Linked DNA regions of Homo sapiens: all the other regions are linked to region 2. The links come from fine-mapping of genetic effects on gene expression. A gene starts in region 2. Each other region holds a variant in brackets. All regions are shown on one strand. Distances are from middle to middle. Region 1 overlaps MBTPS1 (membrane bound transcription factor peptidase, site 1). Region 2 holds the start of HSDL1 (hydroxysteroid dehydrogenase like 1). Region 3 holds the start of MBTPS1 (membrane bound transcription factor peptidase, site 1). Region 4 overlaps SLC38A8 (solute carrier family 38 member 8).

What was found. PIP is the estimated chance that this variant, and not a neighbour inherited with it, causes the effect.
Region 1: its variant is fine-mapped to the expression of HSDL1 in whole blood (TOPMed, PIP above 0.99).
Region 3: its variant is fine-mapped to the expression of HSDL1 in T cells (TOPMed, PIP 0.99). The same link has a PIP of 0.9 or more in whole blood.
Region 4: its variant is fine-mapped to the expression of HSDL1 in whole blood (TOPMed, PIP 0.99).

Annotation. Positions count from the first base shown.
Region 1 is chr16:84,067,209-84,072,208 of GRCh38, forward strand. It overlaps MBTPS1 (membrane bound transcription factor peptidase, site 1), which reads right to left. Exons shown (of 23, transcript NM_003791.4): 13 at 3,380-3,568; 14 at 2,658-2,830; 15 at 1,131-1,246; 16 at 459-615. Among named protein-coding and RNA genes, the nearest start is that of SLC38A8, 27 kb to the left of the region's middle. The variant T/C (reference allele first, on the strand shown) is at 1,905.
Region 2 is chr16:84,142,009-84,147,740 of GRCh38, forward strand. HSDL1 (hydroxysteroid dehydrogenase like 1) reads right to left here and starts at 3,169. Exons shown (of 6, transcript NM_031463.5): 1 at 3,072-3,169. DNAAF1 (dynein axonemal assembly factor 1) reads left to right here and starts at 3,300. Exons shown (of 12, transcript NM_178452.6): 1 at 3,300-3,556. The coding sequence starts at 3,433. RefSeq lists silencers at 2,594-2,643, 2,694-2,743, 2,904-3,353.
Region 3 is chr16:84,114,874-84,120,602 of GRCh38, forward strand. It overlaps MBTPS1 (membrane bound transcription factor peptidase, site 1), which reads right to left and starts at 2,069. Exons shown (of 23, transcript NM_003791.4): 1 at 1,862-2,069. It overlaps MBTPS1-DT (MBTPS1 divergent transcript), which reads left to right and starts at 2,170. Exons shown (of 1, transcript NR_186375.1): 1 at 2,170-4,290. It also overlaps the pseudogene LOC648774. RefSeq lists silencers at 1,560-1,989, 2,390-2,489 and an enhancer at 2,640-2,799. The variant G/A (reference allele first, on the strand shown) is at 2,026.
Region 4 is chr16:84,031,415-84,037,087 of GRCh38, forward strand. It overlaps SLC38A8 (solute carrier family 38 member 8), which reads right to left. Exons shown (of 11, transcript NM_001080442.3): 3 at 5,288-5,486; 4 at 1,914-2,055; 5 at 453-554. Among named protein-coding and RNA genes, the nearest start is that of SLC38A8, 8.5 kb to the right of the region's middle. RefSeq lists an enhancer at 1,561-2,061. The variant G/C (reference allele first, on the strand shown) is at 2,572.

The sequences.
Region 1 (5,000 bases), 75 kb before region 2:
ACCTGAAGTATCTCATATCTAAGATTAACAAGGAAAGACAATGAACCCTCTATATTATTAACAGTACTCATACTCAATAAACATCTTACTCTATGAGCAACTTTCAAGAACCTCTCTACTGTATAAAGGACTATTTTCTTTTTTGTGTTTTATTTTTTCTCTTTGAGATAGGGTCTCTCTGACACCCAGGCTGGAGTACAGTGGCTTGATCTCAGCTCACTGCAGCCTTGGCCTCCCAGGTTCAACCGATCTGCCCAACTCAGCCTTCCAAAGTGCTGGGATTACAGGCGTGAGCAACCGCACTCAGTCGAAAGGGCTTTTTTTCTAATCAAGCTCTCTGAATGTGTCTGTGCCAACTGGAAAGACCACCAACAGGTCAAATCATCACTTAAGTATTTGCTGGGTAGAATTTGATTCCCCAAAAGTCTTATCCAAATACCAATGCGTATCAACAGTACCTTGTGTTTTCATCATAAAACTTCACTTTTCTCATAACAGAAGTGTTGTACCAGTCACTGAAGATGACGAGCGAGAGGCCGTTGTCCACGTCCCTCCGGAGCTTGGCGATCTCTTCAGGGAAGTACTCCTCCTCACTGTCCACCATCAGCAAAGTGCCTGATGAACAAAGAACCAAAGCTGGGAACTGTCACTTCTGAATGACAGGACACCACCACGGCAGAAACAGTGTCACCAGGTACATGTCTCAGGTTACTGACACCTAACAGTCTGGTTTGTGCCACCCTGTACCACTTTAAAAGGGACTAAAAAGTAGAGGACCAGGATCCAGCAATACACAGCGACTAACTGTGATCTGATTTCACTTGTGGTGCTCAGGATAAAGATTTTCATTCACTTGAGAAGGAGCAAAATATATAGCAGAGCTGCTTTTAACTTAAAGAAAAAAGAGTACGAATGTCCCTGTCTCCAATCAGCCTGTCTTGTATTTCAGCTGAATGTCACACCGCCACCACCTGTTTCAGAGCCTCGCCCCAGGCTCACCCAGCTGTGGGGCCCACGGCGCATACTCCCTTGGTAGCTATCACTGAAAACTGGGATTCACTCCTCAGACATTTAACAAACATCCAAAGTGGGCGGAAAGACCATCTGGCTAGCACAGCAGTGCCACTTACCATACTGACTGGCATCAAAACACGTGAAGGGGGCCCCGAGGACCTCTACAAAGTAGCCCATGCTTCTCAGATGCTGGTACATATCCCTGAAATTGGTGTGGATGTGATCACCATTCCTGAAAAACAATAGGCCACAGCATTAAAATGATCGATCTTTACTGGCAATAAAGGCATATCTGGCCACAGGGCCGGCTCTGCAAGAGCACCATGCCATGGCCCACAGAGAAGGCCTGGATGGCTGGCCCACTGGCACAGGCATCAGCTTAGGAGACCTGTGTGCTCTGGTCTGGACACACGGAAATGGCTGATAAGAAGAAACCATGTGCCTGGCAGGTGCATGAAAGAGACAAAATGACCAGAAGAAATGGCCAAAGACATGTTTAATGTGTCCTGGACCATCACTGTAGCAGTCGCGTTCAAGTAAATTGCTGGCAACCATCTGTGTCTGACAGAAGAGCTTAGCAAATAGCCGCGGGAGTGCAGGGACGCTGGAACAAGCCACGCAGGGCCACGGTGCTAAGACAGCGGCACAGCTAACTGATATCACTGCCACTGGTCAACTTTCCATCCCCGTCCCTCCCAAATGAGCTCACTTTCCTATGGGACACTGTATACACCCTCTAGGGGTCACCTCATTCTCACCTCCCAGCAGCACAGACTCCAGGTCCTCTCCTGCAGGCCAACGGGCTTGCCTTGGTCTATGAACTTCCCACCACTTCCTGTCTACCCGTCTCTGGTCTGAGCCCCTCCAATCTGGCTGCCAGAGACATCTTA[T/C]TTTAAAAGGCAAGTCTGACTCTGTAACTATCCTGGTCACATCTTTCAATGCTTCCCCTTCCCCTACTTTCAGCATGGAGTTCAAACGTAGTCCAAACATAAAAGCAGAAATGAGCTTGGCTAATGCACCAAGAGAAAGTCAGCCCAGCTGCCCTGCAGGGAACAGGCACAGGGAGAGCGGCTATGGGGACTGCGGGGGAAGCAGTGCCAGCTTCTGAAGGGCTGCATGGGTCACACCAGGGGGCTTGGCCGGGTGAGGAAGTCAGAATAGGCAGTCACTGGAGAGCTTGAGGCAAACTGTGTTAGAATTTGTTTTAAGATTACCAAGGTTGCCAGAAGAGGAGTGGAATTTAGGGCAACAACAGCAACAGCAGTGGCACTCAGGAGCTGCTGATGTGGTCCAGGCAAGAGATGACAATGGCATGGACTAGGGTGGGAGCAGGGAGAAGGCCAGAGATGGAAGGATCCAGGATGCAGTTTGAGGGTAAGACTGACAGCTTTGCTGACTGGCGCAATGGGAGAAGGAAGGAAAAGAGAACTTCAAGCTTTTTACTGCATAATCATACTTGTGAAAGTTTCAAAAGAGAAGTCAGGCTGCCCTAAGTGCATGGCAAAAGCCTGAACATCTCAGCGTCATCAGAGTCCAGGCTCCACGAGAAGCTGAGCAACATCTTTCCAAGAGTTGCGGGAACAGTGGTGCCTCCTCCCACCACGGAGGCTGGGGAGGTGAAGTGCATCCTGTGAGGTGCTTACCAGTCTAAAGGGTCATTCTTCATCCTTAAATTATCCCTGGGGAAATAGCCAGGTGGATAGCGGAGGTTGTGGTACTGATCCCAGAGAACTCTCTTGCTTCGCGGGGGAGTAGGAATTATCTTCACCTTAATGGGGAGCTTTACTGTTGAAGTCTGTTCTGCACCATTTTTTGACTAAAAAAAAAGAAAAGAAACTTGAAACGCCCTCATTGTGCAGAAAGAAACTTTCAGGTTTGAAAACATCATTTCTATTTATCAACTTAACCTAAATAATTTGAACACAAGAATTTCCAATAACAAATGTCTGATGAAAGATTCATGTATCATAACTAAGTCCATTCAAACACTTAAAGAGTTTAACAGTTAAAATTTAAGGCATATTCTATCAATAAAAACTACTAGAGCCTCATAGGATTAACCCTACATTTCCTTTTAGAGAATGTATATTTTTGGTGCACTCCTTTTGAGCTTGAAATCTGGTAGAAAACAGTCTTCTCTGCTGTTGTGTGGCCACAGAACGGCAAGCCCTAGCACTCACTGACTGAGCTACTTCTTCAAACTCCAGCTGCTCCGGAGGCCCTGGAACCATCAATTGTGGCCATCGAGGATAAGCCTATCTGTCAACTGTACTTCCAATGGAGACCCCAGGCATTTGGCCTGTCCCTCCCTGAAAGGTGATGTCAAACAGCTAAGAAAACAAGCCACTTTCCCGCATATCCCTACCTCTGTCTCTGCTGGGGAAGCCACAGTGATCATGACATGGCCCTGAGCAATGCCTTCCCAGGAAGCCGCTTTCTTGGTCACAGAAATGGAGATGGCCAGGTAGCCCGACCAAGGCCATAAGACCGAGGAGTAGGAGAAGGCAACTTCAATGTTGTCTCCGTTCTGTGGCAAATAGGGCTGCCAGTCAGGCTGCAGGAAAAAGAAATCAGACAAAGGCTAAAGTGAAAAGCTCCAGGAGAAAACACGTGGAAACCAGAAAAACTCAATTCTTACCAAAACTGGTTCCGAGAAATACTTCACTAAATAGGGAAAAATAAAATTTATACACAGATACTAAGTAACTACAACCAAAGTAGCCTATGGACTGCCTCGGACGTATCACTAGAAAAGTCTAGAAACCACTATTTCTGACAGCTTCCAATTTTATGGAGACATTTTTTTTCTATTATAAAACAGGAACTTTTGTCAAAAGTTCTTTGATGAAAAACTTCATCTGACTAAGAGAACTTATATAGATGAAAACTCTCAGATTTAAGGTTATTTCCCAATTAGTTGTATGCTTTAAAAAAATCCCATTAATTGAAAGCAGTAACATGACAGGGACACCAGCTGTCCCGAGTCACATTCTGAAGCTGGAAAGAGGTGGCCGGAGGGAGGACTGGCTCAGCTGCGAGATGACCACCCTTCTACCCTCCAGGTGGGAGAAAAGCAGAAAGGGAAGCGTGAGCAGAGGCCATCTGGAAGAGACGTCAATGAGAGCTTGCAACTAACCGGTATTTCAGACGAATCTAAATTACTCATTTCCCTCCACAATCCACACAGCCAGAACTTACTTCCCAAGTAAGCCAGTGGGTTAAGAAAAAAGTATGAAAAAGAAAAATATCTGTAGGATACGGTGTCCCAAATAATGAGGAAGAAAAGGGATTTTTAAAGAATGCTCTTGGAGCCACTGGTTCCCAAGTGAAAAACTTTCGCCCATCTCTTGTAACACATCAAATTAACACAGATGAAACAATTAAATATTTAACAATCATATACATAAAAATTAGTAGAAAAATAAAATGGAAATTTTATTATCTCTCTGGAATGATGTTTCCATCTGCAAAACAATAAAAGTCACAAAACATAAAAATTCAACTACATGAAATGTAAAACTTTTACAGAAGGAAAAAAATCCCCACCACAGTAAGTAATATTAAAGGGAAAAGAGCATCACCTGGAGGAACATTTTGCTGAACACACAGCAATGGTGAATTTCTCTATGACAGGGCGATCATGTTAGGATTGATAGAGAAAATCCCAATTCCAGGAGAAAAATGGGCCAACGAAATCAACGTGTAACTCATACAAGAGGAAACAGAATTCGTAAACACAACCAAAGATACCCACCCCACAAAGAACTGAAGTGCACATTACACAAGGCGCCCGTTTTACCCCCATCTAAGCTGAAAGCTGAAAGATGTACCACCTAGAATAGCCAAATGCCCAGCAAGAGATGAACGGAGAAACGCCATGTGGCCGACCCGCCCAGTGGAGCACTACTCCAACACAGGAAGCAGCGCGGCACTGACAGCACTACGGCGTGGACAAACTGTGAAAACCTGAGGCTGAGGGAAGGAAG
Region 2 (5,732 bases):
CCTCCGCCTTCCGGGCTCAAGCCATCCTCCCACCTCAGCATCTCAAGTAGCTGGGACACAGGCATGTACCACCAAGCCCAGTTAAATTTTTTTTGTGTGTGTAGAGATGAGGTTTCACCATGTTGCCCAGGCTGGTCTCAAACTCGTAAGCTCAAACCATTCACCTGCCTTGGCCTCCCAAAGTGCTGGGATTACAGGTGGGAGCCACTGCACCTGGCTGAATGTCTTAATTTTGAAAGAGACAAATATATCAATCTTTCTGCTTTAGGGTTTGTTTTATTTCAGAAATCCCTCCTTAGCCTCAGGTCATGAAGAAATTTTTTCGAATTATTTTCTAGAAATTTTACATTTTTGCTTTTTCAGTTTAAGTCTTTAATCCTCCTGGCGTTTTGTGATGGTGTGAGGCTGGGATCTCACACATCTTTTTTTTTTTTTTTTTTTTTTTGAGACAGAGTCTCACTCTGTCACCCAGGCTGGAGTGCAATGGCGCGATCTTAGCTCACTGCAACCTCCTCCTTCCAAGTTCAAGCAATTCTTCTGCCTCAGCCTCCCAAGTAACTGGGACTACAGGCGTGTGCCACCATGCCTGGCTAATTTTTGTATTTTTTTCTTTTTTAGTAGAGACGGGGGTTTCACCATATTGGCCAGGCTGGTCTTGAACTCCTGACCTTGTGATCCGCCCACTTTGGCCTCCCAAAGCACTGGGATGTGACCGGCCGGATCTCACACATCTTTAATATTCCTCCTCAGCACCTGACATGCTGCTGTAGACAACTTTATTTAATAAACAGAATCAAATACTGCTTTGTGTTCAAAGCTCAAATTTCACTCTTGAGAAAAAAACTTAAGCTTTTCATACTCTGCGTCAGCACTATGACAAAGTTAGCATTGGTGTATCAAGACTTTTTGGGATGTCTTTACCTTCACTGCCAATTTTTGGTATAGGACTAAACGCACAATGAAGCTGAGCCTAAAGAGCAGCAACATGGAATTAGAAACCTGGATTCTCATCCAAGATCCAACACTCTTCACCATCATGTCTGTATTTATGCAGTAAGAATTAAAATATTCAGAGTACCCCACTCCTAGGCAGATACCCAAGATAATTAGAAACTTTTGCTCACATAAAAACTCCTGCTTGCATGTTCACAGTGGCCTACTCACAACTGCCAGAAGGCAGAAACAAACAAAATGTCCATCAACAAATGAATGAATAAGCAAAATGTGGTGTTATCCACACAAAGGAGTATTATTCAGCCATAAAAAAGCATGAAGTACTGATACATACTACAACATGGATAAACTTTGAAAACATTATGCTAAAGGACAGAAACCAAATACAAAAGGCCGTATGTTGTATGTTTCCACTTGTATGAAATGTCCAGCATAAGCAAATCCATAGAGACAGAAGATAACTTAGGGCTGCTGAGGGACAGGGGGAGAAAAGAGGTATGACTGTTAATGGGGTTGGGGTTTCTTTTGTAGGTGATTAAATGTTCTGGAATTAGTTACTGGTGATGGTTGCATAGCATTGTGACTATAGCAAGAACTACTGAGTTATACACTGTAAAATGGCTAAAATGATAAATTTTATGTCATGCGTAAGTCATTTCGATTTTTGAAAACCTACTTTAAAAAAAAGTAGCACCAATATGTTCAACTCTGTTGCCCTAGAATATTCCAGCAGTGATTAAAACCACAAACTTGGCCGGGTACAGTGGCTCATGTCTGTAACCCCAGAACTTTGGGAGGCCAAGGCGGGCAGATCACTTGAGGCCAGGAGTTCAAGGCTACCCTGACCAACACAGCGAAACCCCGTCTCTACTAAAAAAAAAAAAAAAAAAATTAGCTGGGTGTGGTAGAACGTGCCTGTAATCCCAGCTACTCGGAAGGCTGAGGCAGGAGAATCACTTGGGCCCGGGGTGCGGGATGGCGGGCAGAGGTAGCAGGAGCTGAGATCGCAGGCACCATTGCACTACAGCCCGGGCGACAGAGCGAGATTGTCTGAATCAATCAATCAATCAACACCCTCCCCCTCCCCCTCCCTCTCCCTCTCCCTCCCTCCCTCTCTCTCTCTCTCTCTCTCCTGTGGCGGTCAGAGTAAAATTGAGAGCTCACTTTATGCAAAAGACTCTGCTAAGTGCTTTATTCCTATTGTCTCACTTTATTCTCTCATTAATCTTATAAAGCGCAGTCAGACTCTCCCGTTTATAGATGGGGAAATTGAGTCTTATAGATGTAAAGTCGCACACCCAAGACCCCACAACTCAGAAAGGGGCTACCTGCAATTCAGATGGAGGTATAGCAAGGCGCAGAGTCCTGTCCAGGGAGCCCACTGTGAGACCCCCCGACTGCCTCGCAGTCACCTGTACACATCATGTTGGGATCGCCGAGGGGCGCTGCAGCGATCCGGTTTCTGGGGCTGCGTCTGGGTGGCACGTTCAGAACGGGGACCTGCCTGGTTCTTCTTCCCAGCCCTTCCCCTCCAGCACCCGGCAAGGCCCAGTCAACACGAGCAAACTCGGAAATCCTGGCTGAACCCACGACCGCTGCATATTTCCATTTTAGAAAAACACGGCAACAACAACTCAAACCAAATCGTTCAGAAATGAGAATAAAGAAGCACCGACAAAGGAGGCGATTGCTGGGGCCGCTCGGGGGAGGAGCCGGGTGAGAGGCTGCAGGGAGGGCAGGGCATGCGCCGGCGACAACGGGGTTCGCGGTTTGGGGGGCAAGGCCCGGGGGAAGAGAGAGAACAGGGGTGCAGCGCCGCGGCGGGGGGCGTGAGGATGGAGCCGGGGGAAGGGGGGCTCTGAGATGTGAAGGGGCGGGGCTGGGGCTTTTTGGTCTGAAGGAAGGAGTCTCACGGGACGGAGGGACGAAGATTTCCTGGGGTCAGGGGCGCCAAGGGGCTTCGGGGCCGGATGCAGCGGAGGGGGCCCGGGGCCTGGGGGGCGTGGTGAGAGCTCAGAGGGGTCTCGCCAAGCAGCCGGCTGGCGCTGAGGGGACCGAGGAGGGGTCTGGGGCGAAAGGACCGCGAGAGGGCGCCCAGGGCGCGGGGGGCGCGGTACCTGCAGGCCGGCAAAGTCTTCCAAACCGGTCCCGCCAGACCCGCGCGGCCGCCGCCCCCGTCTCGGCCGCCGGAGCTGCTGCCGCGCCGCGCCCTCACGTGACCCGCGTACGCGCCGGGGGCGGAGCCGTCTCAGACCCGCCCCCACCCCCCGGCGTCCCCAGCGCGCCGGTCCGTCCCGAGTGCGCGTGCGCAGCGGTTGCCTGGGCGACCGGGGAAGCGTTGGGCTGTAAAGACTAGGGCGCCAGCGGCTGGCGAAGAAGGAAAGAGGGTACTCTCTGGCTGGGCTGGGGCCGTAGCGACGTCCGCCGCGAACCTGGGCCCCCCAAAGCTGCGGGGCGTTCGGTGTCGCCGAAGTAAACATGCACCCTGAGCCCTCGGAGCCTGCGACAGGTGGTGCAGCAGAGCTGGATTGCGCGCAGGAGCCCGGCGTGGAGGAGTCTGCGGGTGACCACGGGAGCGCAGGCCGAGGGGGCTGCAAGGAAGGTGCCGACTGCCCCCCAGGGAGGGCGGTGGGCGAGGGGCAGACACGGCTAGGCGCTCCAGCCCCCTTCCCACACCACATACCCGATCTTCACAGCCAAATAATAACAATAATAATAATGGTAGCAAGCAACGCTCTGCAGTAGGGGCTTCTCTCGCCATTTCGTACTGAGGAGGAAACATACTTAAGAGGTTACAAAACTTGCACCAAACAGATAACCCTCGGCTAGTCAGTGACAGAAGAGACTTGGCCGGGTGCGGTGGCTCAACGCCTGTAATTCCAGCACTTTGGGAGGCCGAGGCGGGCGGATCATCAGGTCAGTCAGGAGTTCGAGACCAGCCTGGCCAACATAGTGAAACCCTGTCTCTACTAAAAATACAAAAAATGAGCTGGGCGTGGTGGCGGGCGCCTGTAGTCTCAGCTACTTGGGAGGCTGAGGCAGGAGAATCGCTTGAACCCGGGAGGCGGAGGTTGCAGTGAGCCAAGATCTCGCCATTGCATTCCAGCCCGGACGACAGTGGGAGACTCCGTCTCAAACAAACAAACAAACAAACAAGCAAACAAAACCCACCAGACTCAGGCCCAGACAGTCTGGGTCTCCAGAGCCCCAGCCCTAACCCACCACGCTATTCTCCCTGGTCCCAACTTTGATGCTTTAAATGTGTCCCTTTATTGCTATCACTATGTAAGATCAAAGGCTTTCTCTCCCTCCAGACTGCATGTTGTGTCAGGGCAAGACATCTTGATTGAATTTGGAGTCTAGTCCAGTGCCTGACCTAGGGTAGAGAGTCCGAATGAAGACTTGGTTCTGGGGTCAGTGTGTGATCCCCTCACCAAAGTTTGCCAGAATGGACTTGAAAGATAACCTTCATGGCCAGGCACGGTGGCTCACGCCTGTAATCCCAGCAATTTGGGAGGCAGAGGCAGGTGGGTCACCTGAAGTCAGGAGTTCGAGACCAGTCTGGCCAACATATTGAAACCCTGTCTTTGCTAAAAACACAAAAATTAGCAGGGCGTGGTGACGTGCTCCTGTAATTCCACTTACTTGGGAGGCTAAGGCAGGAGAATTCCCTGAACCCCGGAGGCAGAGGTTGCAGTGAGCCAAGGGGGAGGCTGAGGCTGCAGTGAGCCAAGATCACACCACTGCACCCCAGCCTGGGCAATGGAGCAAGACTCCGTCTCAAAAAAAAAAAAGGAAAGAAGGAAGCCTGGCTTCAGCTTCTGCTCCCACTAGACTTGGTGCCCTAAAGGAAACCTTTTAGTGATTACATTAAAAAACCACTTGATTTGTGTTCCAGTTTCTGAACGCAGGCAACAAATAAACCAGCTGATTTGTGTTCCAGGCAACAAATATATCTTAAGCATCAACTGTCCAGATGAACCTTGTATGAGGAGCCATAGGGAACTGGCATTACTCAGTGGAAAGACACTGGTCTTGGAGCCATTGACACTGGGTTCAAGTTGAGGCTCAGCAGCTGGCCAGCTTTATGGCTGTTGGCCCAGAGCTTAACCTCTCGGAGCCTTAGTCTCCTCATCTGTAAGCTGGAATAATTATACAGGAGTATAAGGAGAGAATTATAATTAAATGTCCCAGCATATAGTGGGCCATTATTAAATGGTAGCTCTTGTTATTAATTACATATTAATATTTATATATTGAGCGCTTATTCTTTATTTTTTCCACAAACATTTATCTGTTGCTTCCTGTGGCTGGGCATTCTATGCAAAATTGATGAGTTTAAGAACCAGTCCCCACACGCACAGCCTTTAGTCTTGTTCAATAGACCACACAAACACAGAAAGCAGCAGACAACAGCTCTTAAAGTTAAGTGCGGTTGAATTGGCCAATTTTGAATGACCTTTAAAAAAATTATTCATTTGAATGTGCTCATGTTATTGTTATCATAGATATTCTCACTATTTTTGTTTCTTTTCATGTGATTTTCCTTTTTATGATTTTTTTTTTAAGAGATGGAATCTCACTATGTTACCCAGGCTAGATCTTCCTGCCTCAGCCTCCTGAGTAGCTGGGACTACAGGCATGCTCCACTACACCTGGCTTCAGAAATTTTTTAAAAGACAAAAGAACAAAGAACATTAAAACAAATACCCGTGTTTTGCCAGCAAGAATTGAAAATGAGTAACATTTTATCATATTTATTTGAAGTCTTTTTTAAT
Region 3 (5,729 bases), 27 kb before region 2:
AGCACTGATGGCAGCAATGTACAGTTCACCTTAGCCTTCAGTCTTCCAAGTTTTTTTTTGTTTTTTGTTTTTTGAGACATAGTCTCACTCTGTCGCCCAGGCTGGAATGCAGCGGCGTGATCTTGGCTCACTACAACCTCTGCCGCCTGGGTTCAAGGGATTCTCCTGCCTCAGCCTCCCGAGTAGCTGGGATTACAGGCGCCTGCCATTGCGCCCAGCTAATTTTTGTATTTTCAGTAGAGACGGGATTTCACCACGTTGGCCAGGCTGGTCTTGAACACCTGACCTTGTGATCCGCCCGCCTCGGCCTCCCAAATTGTGGGATTACAGGCGTGAGCCACCGCGCCCGGCCCAGCCTTCCTAGTTCTTGTTAACCTCCTGACTAGAAGAGCTCCCACTTCTTCCCTAGGTGCTTCAAAGGTTCCGCAAGCTCTGCATTGGAATTTTCCCTTTTTATATAGAAAGGACCAACTCTTGATTATACGGGGTGCCTGGGGAGTGCAGTCGTTTGACACGTGTCTGGGTCAGGTCCCAGCTCCCATTCTCAATCAACAGTTTTGCTGTCATCCGCATCACACATTAGAGCATAAAATAAACTTTTATTTGTCAAAAGTGTTCTGCATAAATGCTTAAACAAAATGTGGTATAGCCATACAACTGAATATTATTTGGTCATAAAAGGAATGAAATCCTGATTCATGCTACAACATGGATGAACTGTGAAAACATGCTAAGTGAAAGAAGCCTGACACAAAAGGCCGCATATCATATGTTTCCATCTGAATATACGAAATAGTCATTAAAGGCAAATCTAGAAAGACAAAGTAGATGAAAGGTTGCCTGTGGCGGGGCCTGGAAATGGGCATTGACTACAACTGGGCATCAGAGGTCTTGGGGTAACGGAAATGTTCTAAAAGTGGATTTGGTAGTGGCTGTGCTGCTGTAAATTTACTAAAAACCACTGAATAGTACACTTAAAACAGGTGGATTTTATGGTATGTAAATTCTACTTCAATGAAGCTCTTACATTAAAAAATAAGTATAAATAATAAAAGCGGATTCTCCAGATTGAAAAAAAAAAAAATGAGAGGAATTACTTCTCTTCTGCAAGCCCTCCTTTTCGTAGACATACAATTGGAGACCTTGACGTTAGGAGGGCTTACCTACACAGTTCAGACTAAAGGATGAGTCTCCAGAATTCAACGCAGGTCGTATTCCACTCCACGTAATTTCGAAGTGTCAATCAGAATCTAATAACTTAATTTGTGTAGACAAATAGGCCAAGATTCTCAGGGGCTCAACCCAATATGAAAGGTAAACATCTTAATAAAAATACTGACGATCCACAACGGTCTTAGGTAGCGCAACCATGCCAAGGCGAGGCAAGATTTTTAAGAAGCTACAGGTTTAAAAGGCAATCTGGTTCTGAGAGTTCGCCGAACAGAATCCCCGCATTTCCAAAAACCAGCAGCGCAATATGCACAGACCGAGATAAGGCAAAGAATCGACGTCTTTTAAACCTGACGCCAGCACTGCCCCGGAAGCGCACCTAGAATTGAGTCTGTCTGGAGGCTCCGGGCCAGAGCAGGGCGTATTGTTTCACTCGGTGAATGCTCATTTCACGTAAAGAAAACCAGGCAACGGAACAAGCTGCCGGAGCGCGCAGACCCCCGCAGGGCCGCGGTACAGGCACGCTGTGTCCAAACAAGCGCCGGAGGCCCCGCGCCCACCTCCCCCGACCCGGCCCGGCCCCCGCAGCCCTCGCCTCGGGGCCTCGGACGCAACCGGCACACCTGAGCGAGCGGGCCGCCGCCGCTAGGCGGAGCGGGTCGGGGAGGCCGCGCGCGGGCGGCTGACGTACCTGCGCCGCCGGGAGCTCAGGGCCGGCGGGCCCGGGATAACGGCGCCTCCGCGGCGAACACGCCTGGGCACTCCATTCGGGGCTGTTTACTCCCAACTCTCGCGAGACTGGGCGACCGGGCCAGCGAGGCCCACAGCTGGGAGCCTCAGCTCCGCCGACCCAGC[G/A]TGCCCTGTCTGTCCCGCGCTCCCGGGGCTTGCGTGCGCGCTCTGGACGCCGTGGGCAGCGGGACCACGCCGGGAGGATGGACGAAGGTCTCGCGACATTTGCGGCGGCGGGGGCCGGTGGCAGGGTGGAAGCGGAGGGGCGTGGCCAGCGAGCTGCCAGGCGGCGAGAACGCGCTGGGGGAACCCTTGGTCCGCTCTGCGCGTCGCTCTAGGATCCCCGAAAAGGAGCACGGGCGCGAAAGCGGCCAGGCTGGGCCAGGATCTAGAAAGACTGCCTGGCGCAGGCTCCCTGCCCCCGCGGGCCTGCTGTCATGGACTCGTGGAGAGCTCGCTTCCCGCGCGGACCCTTCCTGCAGGGGTCCACGTCCAGGCACCGGCGGCTCGGACACCCCACCCCCGGCCGGGCACCTGCCCTGGGTGCCCCTTAACCCGGGCGGTAGCTCGTTAAGATGGCGAAGTGTCCGGTCCGGAACACGCGAAACCCCAAATCCCGCCTGCCCGACCTCCTGACCCCCGGCCCCACGGGACGACAGACTGGGCCTCCCGACGCGCAGCGCGCTGCCGGGACACCGGTGCGTGCGAAACGGAGGACCTTTGTAACGCCACGTGTTTGCTCTTTTTGAAAAAACAAGAATAAATGTGTTAAACTGTCTGAAAAGCTTGCCGCCTAAAAGATGTCTGGGTGACTTAGATGCTAGGATCAGTTTGTTTTCAATGTAAATGGACCAGCCCGGACTCCGTACGGCACTAGCAGGGGACTGAAAGCGTCTTCAGGTACTGCTGGTGGGCGGTGATGCGCTACAGGCCGATCAGACAGTTTTGTGTCTTTTGGAACTTGACACTGCACCACGGTAATGCTGAACTGCACCAATATTACAGATCACAGCGCATCATCTTCCTTCAACATGATTTAACACAGTTGACTTAATATGGTGGATAAATGTAGAATCACAAATTACCATACCCCACCTCAGGCTTCTACTTCGTAATTTTGAGCAGGTTGTTTAACCTCTTTGTACCTCAGCTTCTTCATTACAAAAATAGGGGTACTAGCCAGGCGGGGTGGCTCGCGCCTGTAATCCCAGCACTTGGGGAGGCCGAGGCAGCCGGATCACTTGAGGTCAGAAGTTTCAGACCAGCCTGGTCAACATGGGTGAAACGCCGGCTCTACCAAAAATATAAAAACTTAGCTGAGTGTGGTAGCGCATGACTGTAATCCCAGCAACTCAGGAGGCTGAGGCAGAGAATCGCTTGAACCTGGGAGGCGGAGGTTGCAGTGAGCTGAGATCGTACCACTGCACTCCAGCTTGGGCGACAGAGCGAGACTCTGCCTTAAAAATAAATAAATAATTTTTTTAAAAAATAGGGGTACTAATATCTACCTTAAAGGATGAGGGTTAAATTAAGTACACACATAAGCCCTAGCGCAGTGGCTTATGCCTGTAATCTCAACACTTTGGGAGTCTGTGGCGGGAGGATCACTTGAGCCCAGGAGTTTGAGACTAGTCTGGGCAACAGAGACATGTCTCTATAGTTGTGTTTGGTTTTGTTTTTACCAGGTGTGGTGGTGTGCACCTGCAGTCCCAGCTACTAGGGAGGCTGAGGTGGGAGGACTGCCTGAGCCCAGGAGGTCGAGGCTGCAGTGAGCCATGATTGTGCCACTGCACTCCAGCCTGGGCAACACAGCAAGACCTTGTCTCAAAAACAAACAAAAAGCATACTCATAAAGTGCTCGGCTCCTATATGATTCAATATGTGGTGGTGGATTCTTGAATCCTTTCCTGACTCAGATCTCATACGATTTTCTGAACTTTTGGAGAATCCTTGCCTCTCTGCATTTGCAAACCGTCAAAGGCACTCCCTTCTGCCACCACACAAAGCATTTGATTTTAAACTTGACTATGTCCTTCTGTTCCAACTTTAGGTAAATTAATCTTGGTCAGGGTTCTCTGAACAGCCCTTTAGTCACTATGCCATTGAATACATGGCCCTACAGCTGGAAACTGGGGTAGAACAGTGATTGCAGGCATCCATCATGTGACAGCGAGGCCCCAAAGAAGGGGAGAGAATGCCACCACCACCAGTTTCAGAGAATGCCTATACACTGAGGGGACTGGTGTGTGGGAGAGAAGTTACTTGGAGAGCTACCAAGACAGCCTGAGCTACAGGATCCTGGTCTACCACTGGTGGATTCCCACCACTCTGGTTCTAAAATAACTTCCTAAACTTGTGCTTCACATACAGAATAAAGCATCTGTAATTCCATGGGAAGGTAAATCTTTATTCAAATGAAATGTTATTTTAAAGAGTAATAGCTGATGGCACAGGCACTAGCCAACCCTGGGAAAGCCTCCCTGGAGTTGTGGCTCCTGGAGTCCCAGCAGCCACTCTGCAGAGATCTTGGAGGTCCTAGTAAACCTGCCGGTGGCACTACAGGCAGGCTGCTTTTTTGGCAAGGGTGGCTTTGCTGAGAGCATCAAAATCTTGGAGGCAAACACCAAGGAGGTGTTCTCGGGCAAGATCGCACCTGAGTCACTGCTGCTCAATCCGCACCCAGAGGAGACGTCCCTGGAGACGTCTCCAGCCTCTCGCTATACTCACTGCAGCCTCGCCCACCAGCACATCTCAGGTGTCAGTGGCTTTTTCAAGGACAACTTCATGCTCCTGGTGCTGGAGCTCTGCCACCTGAGACCTCTCATGGAGTTGCACACGGGGAGAGCGCTAAGCCTGAGGGCACTACTGCCCGCAGTAGATCATCCTTGGCTGCCGGCACCTGCCTGAAACTGGATTAGTCACCGGGACCTCAAGCTGTACCCCCTCTTCCTGAATGATGACCTGGAGGTGAAAACGGGAAGATCTGGACTGGCAACCAAAGTCGAACATGATGGAAGGCAGAGGAAGACCCTGGGTGGGACTCCTGATTATGTAACTCCCAGGGTGCTGGGAAAGAAAGGGCACCGTTTCAAGGTGGATGTGTGGTCCCTTGGGTACATCACATATACCTTGTTAGTGGGCAAACCACCTTCTGAAACCTCTTGTCTAAGAGACCTACCTCTGGTCAAGAACACACACACTGTTCCCAAGCACAGCTACCCAATGGCCACCTCCCTCATCCAGAAGATACTTCAAATCCGACAGCACTCCCAAACCCCTGAGAAGCTGCTGAATAACGGGTTTTTCACATCTGGCTCCAGCCCCTCCCATCTCCCCATCATCTGCCTCCCATCGCACTGAGGTTCTCAATCCCTGCCAACAGCCTGGACCCTGGCAACTGCAAGCTTCTTGTGATCCTCAAGGCATGGAGAACCCCTGCCTGAGCAGCCCCAGGAAAAAGAGGAACCAGTGGCTTAGGGAATGGGACAGACGGTCAATGCCACTGTGGTGACATGCTGCAGCAGCTACACAGCACGGGCTGGTGAGGCAAGAGGAGGCTGAGGATGCCACCTGCATCCCCAGCTTCTGGGTCAGTGAGCAGGTAAACTGTTCCAACAAGCACAGCCTAGGGTATCAGCTGTGTGACAACAGTGTCACACATGCCTTATCCTCGACAACACCGTGACAGCCTGCAGTGCCTACGGTAGTGCTCCCTTATCCGAGGGGACATGTTCCAAGACCTCCGGTGGATGGTCTTGGGACTCACCGTGGCTGGAACTTTGGCAGTTTGAGGTGTGACAGCAAAACTAGCATGAATTTCTTTTTCCTTC
Region 4 (5,673 bases), 110 kb before region 2:
ATCCAGAGCAAAACCAAACTCCTCGCCGTGGCTCTGAATCCCTGTACGACATCCCCGCCCATGCTCTCTGCCCTTGTTCCGGCTGGCTTGGCCACACCGGCCTCCTCACTGTTCCCCTGCCCCGGTACATGCAGCTGGATGGCTGCCAGATTCTGTACCTCCACACTGTGGGGACAAGTCTGCAATAACCTATGACCCCTAGGCCGCCGCAGCCTTTGGCGGTTCTGCGTCCCTTGGCCTGTCCCGGTCATCGCTAGCCACGGCCAGGTCCCTGCAGCAGAAGGAGAGTGGCCCTCCCTTGCCTTCACCGCATCAGAGACGGAAAGAACTGGAAGGAAGGAGCCCAGGCTCTGCAGTGAGCCACGAGAGGCTCCTCCTCCAAGACTCCCCTCACAGACTCCCCTGCCGTGCCTCCCCGCCGAGGCTGCCGGAAGCTGTTCCCTCAGACTTACCTCAGTGAAGGATGGGACTCACGCACGAGGCCCTGGGGCCAGAGGTAGTACTGCACGGTGATGACCAGGGCCAGGTAACAGGCAGCCAGAGTGCCTAGGATGCTAACACAGTGACCGTGTGAGGGGCTGCGCAGTGGGTGACATGTGCGGTTGATGCACGGGGACAGTAGTGGGATCTGAATCCCAGCTCCGCCCTTGACAATGAGGTGCTGGCCAAGCTGTCCACCTCTGCCTCACCATCCTCATCTGTACAGGGGGCATGTGGGGCAGGGCTGCTTTGGGGTCAAGGGGTCAGATGTAGAGTTTTGTTGTTGTTGTTTTGTTGTTGTTGTTGTTTTTTGAGACGGAGTCTCGCTCTGTTGCCCAGGCTGGAGTGCAGTGGCGCAATCTTGGCTCACTGCAAACTCTGCCTCCCGGGTTCAAGCAATTCTCCTGCCTCAGCCTCCCGAATAGCTGGGATTACAGGTGTCCGCCCCCACGCCTCGCTAATTTTTGTACTTTTAGTAGAGACAGGGTTTCACCGTGTTGGTCAGGCTGGTTTTGAACTGCTGACCTCGTGATCTGCCTGCCTTGGCCTCCCAAAGTGCTGGAATTACAGGTGTGACGCCCAGCCCAAATGTGTAGAATTCTTAATGGCACCCGGCGCCCTTCGGGATGGCAGCTGTAATAGTGTTTCCTTCCCACCAGCAAAAGCTAATCAGCCACTCAGCCTGATGCCTAAGGCAGGACGCCAGCAGGCTCGCTCACACTTGAGAGGGGACAAGCCGCCCCCTGGCTTGGTCTGAGTGGCACGAGAGCCTTGCAGGGCAGAGACCTGAGGGAGGCTCGGGTTTGCTGCCTGCTGTTTCTATACAATGTCTATTGTTCATACACAACAGGGAAAAGGCAGGCAGCAGAGGGAGATGGATACTGTTTCCAAGCTTTATTTCTTCCTAAGTATACAGACCCTTAGCCACAAAAAAACAACCTCTGTGTGTGTGCACACATGTGCGTGCATGGGCACGGGGACATGCGGGGATGGGGGTGCATGTGTGGGTGGGTGAGCATGGGTGGGTGTGGGTACGTGGGTGTGCATGGGTGGGTGTGGGTAGGTGGGTGTGCATGGGGGGGTGTGGGTAGGTGGGTGTGCATGGGGGGGTGTGGGTAGGTGGGTGTGTATGTGTGGGTGTGGGTAGGTGTGTGTTGTGGGGAGGCGTCTCTCTCTCTCTGCAGCCATGTGCAAAAAATCCAACAATGAAATAAACTGAGTAGCACTGACGTTGTTACAGGTCATTTTCTTCTTTAGGCTCATCTATGTTTTGCATCATGCATACATTTTACTTGTATAATTTTTTTTTCGTTTTCCCCTTCTCCAAATGTGAAGGCCAATTCCCCAGCTCCTCTGACCCCAGATGGACAGAAACCCTGACACAAACACTCAGCAAGGTGGGGGCCCCCACCAGGCAGCATCCCAGCCCTTACCTTGTGTATTTCTGGAAGGCGATCTCCCGCGGGGCAGACAGGGGCAGGATGACCAGCACGGAGAGCAGGGGCAGGGTGAAGCGCTGGTCTGCGTACCACGGCTGCGGGGCGGGCGGGGTGCCAGACAGGAGGGAGTCACACACTGCCAGAGACACGGGGAGAGCTGAGCCACAGAGTACAAATGCCGTGGGTTCTCGGCTCCCACCTGGCCCTTCAACCCTGGCTGGGGTTGGACATCCACCCTCAGCCAGCCCCAGGAGCCCAGGGATCAGACGACAAGTGAGATGGAGACAGGTCACGTGCCCCACGCAGGAACAAACCCTGACACATGAATTCATTCAACAAACATTCGCTGGGCTCCTTCCCCAAGCCCAGCACTGCTCTAAGGCCCAAGATGAGGCGATGACCAGACAAGCCATCTGCCCTCGTGCCCCTTACATTCTGGTGAAAGACTCTTTTGGTTTCGTTCGGGAACTCAATAGTATCTGGAGTCAAATGGGGGCCTGAAGTCGATTTTTGGCCACCGTGCCGTCAGCAACAGGCTGCTGTGCATGAGCATTGTAGGTCCTCATGGTTGCAGCAGAACACATGACCCCAAATGCAGTGGCTCAAAACCACTTTATTACAAGTCATGGATCGTAGGTAGAGAGTTAGTACA[G/C]GGCCAGGCTGGCCAATCCTCCTCCATATAGAATTGGCTGAGGTTGCTTGGGGGGTCTCTGGCTGGCAGTGGGGCTGGTCTGGAGGAACCCTGATGGCTCCCCACAACACCTACTGCCTGATGGGTACACCTGGGCCTTCCCTGCAGTCTGGGAGTCTCTCCACATGGGCCACCTAGCAGGCACCTCCAACTTCTTCCATGGCAGCTGGGGGACCCCAGAGACTGAGGCAGAAGCTGCCTGTCCTCTTAAAGGCCAGACCCAGAATGGGCAGTGTCTCATTTGCCACACATTGCTGGACAAAGCCATCCAGGCACACCTAATTCAAAGGCAAGGGACACAAGCTCCACTAACCTCTCCGTGGAAAGAACACCAAAGAATGTGGGGCCATTTTTATTCTGCCACAGTGGGATGAATGATTTGGAACCCATCTAAGAGGTAAGACAGATGGGGGAGGGGAAAGCACAGGCGAGTGGGAGGGTGGTTGGAGGTGGGAGCCACTGGGAACCACCTGGGTGGGTGAGGTGGCCCCTGCAACCACTGGAGATGGGAGGCCGAGGAGCTTGAGATGTCTTCGCTCCTTCGGTGGGTTGTTGGCCCTGAGGTGTCTTAAGTGCTTCTTTGTTCTCACTCAACAAGGGGAGCCATGTGAAAAAATGAATGCATGTGAGAATAGCTCAAGCGTACGAAATGATGAAGGGGAAAGTTCCAAAAGCAGGTGGTCACAGCAGCATCCACGTGGGAGAGCCGAGATGCCAAGGGACTGCACATGCCCCAGGACTGCACCGAGATCGTGGGTGAGTTTTAGACCTCCAGGTGGCGTGGGATGGGGCAGGCCCTTTGTCTGCATCTGGACCTCCCATAGCCAGGATCCTCAGGGCCAACAGCAGGACTGTACCAGCTCCTTCCTAAACCCAGCGTTCCCGGATGCTTGAGATCTTTGGCACCAAAGACATGGTCAATTGTACCTCGTGCCATGACTCCCCCAAGCACTCCAACCTCTATCTAGCACTCCGTCTCAGAAGCTTGGCCTTCCCTACAGAGAGGCATCCCCAAATATCTAACCAGATATACACAAGAACGCTCTCTCCACCACAGTCAATCAACCCAGACCTGGGGTGGCCCGTATCCTCATCCGTCCTCTGACTAGTCAGGGGGCTCCGCTCCCAGTGAGGCTCAGAATCCTTCTTAACACAGCAACGCTACCAGTTCAGTGGAGTTGAAACTGCAGACGAACTCTACTTGCCACTGTGGGGGAGCAGGACGTTTTTGTGCCCACTTACCCATTAAGAGGTTCAGATACGCCAATCTCACTTCTTCTTGGTATAAGGTCGTGTTTACCAAGACACAGCAGCCTTCAATCTCAATACCCCCCAGTCAGGGGCCTTTTGCTTCATGGGTCAAGAGACACACAGAACACACACATGGCAAAATGGTACACTAAATTTCACCCTATCAACAATCACATGCCAATTAAAAGTCTAAACATTCCAATCGGAAGTCTGAGACTGTCAAGTTGGATAAAAAAGCAAGACCCGACCATATGCTGCCTACAAGAAATGCATTTTAAAATCCCAAGCCATTCTCAGGCTGGTGTTGCAAAAAGGACATATAAACACATTTAACAAAAAAATAATCCAAGTCATAGTTAGATTCTAAGTCAAAGAATGAGAAGAGAACTTCTATACAAACACTAGTCTTAAGGATGCTAGAGTGCCTCTATTAATGGTAGAGAAGACAGATTTAATGCCAGAGATAAAGAATACTTCATAATAAAAGGATATACCTAGAGTTTCAAAGACCACGAACCATGAAGCTTGACAGAATAGGCTAATCTGCAATCGCAGCTGGCGATTTTAACATCCTTTAACATCCTTCTCTTAGGAATAGAATAACTAGACCTAAAGATTAATATGGTTGCAATGACGATCTGAACACAGCTGTTGACTGCCTTGACCTAATGGACATTGCCAGCACACTGTACCCAGCAACTGCAGAGTACACATTCTCTGAAGAGCACACAAAGTGTTCTCCAAGACAGACCATGTGCTGGACTACAGAGCCAGTCTCACTGGATCTCAAAAGACAGCAATGATACAGACTCCCTGACCATGATGCAAATTAAGGTCGAAACCGTGAAGGAATCTAAAAAACTCCTCAATAATTGTCAATTAAACACTACAATTCTAAACATCTCACAAGTCAAAGAAACCACAGTGAAAAGGAGCAAATATTTTAAATTTTCCATTCATGAGGAATGAGTCCAGTGAAAATGAAAATAGGACATATGAAAATTGGCAAGATGCAGCTAAAGCAGTGCTTAGAGGGAAAGTCTTAGTCGGGAACTCGAGGCCAAGGTTGGTGAGGGCTCAGAGCCACAGCCATTCCAAAGCTAAAGGTGTTACTGGTTCTTTCTCAGAAGGAGCTGCTTGCTGTTGGCTCCATTTACTCATCTGTGAAACGACTTATCTCCACTGGATATCCTAATTGCAGCCACAACCTCTCTCATGCACTTGTGTGCCCATGACTGTCACCCAACTGGTGACTATCCATTCGGAGCCTCCCTTCCCTACCATGTTAGGAACAAGAGTGTGGTTTCAGCCTCTGCTGTCCCTCAGGGCCCAGGCCAGGGCCCCACGTCCTGCTCAACTGGAAACTCCAAGAGGTCATTAGAGGTCCGGCACCCTGGGCCACCCCGAGTCCCATGAAGGTACTTACGCTTCTCCAGCTGGTCCCCGATCACCCTGAGGAAGGCCACGGAGATCATGAGCAGGTTGAGGAGGAAGCAGGCCTCACACAGCTTCCCAATGGCAGGGCCACACAGCCCCCTGACCACACCCTGGTAGGTGGCCTGGCCACTGACAGCAGCAGCATAGCCCAGGATGACCAGCCCGCTGATCAGGAAGACCAACGAGACCTGCGGAGAAGGAGCAGGACCTGGAACTGGGGTGTGCCCACAGCCCACCCACCCCCAGCCAGCCACCCCTCGGGCACACTCTCCACATGGCTTCTCATCCACAGAGGCCAGGGCTGCTGCCAACATGGGGTTGGCAGTCTACCAGCTATGTCACTGCACACACCCCCACCCCACCCCACCTATCCTG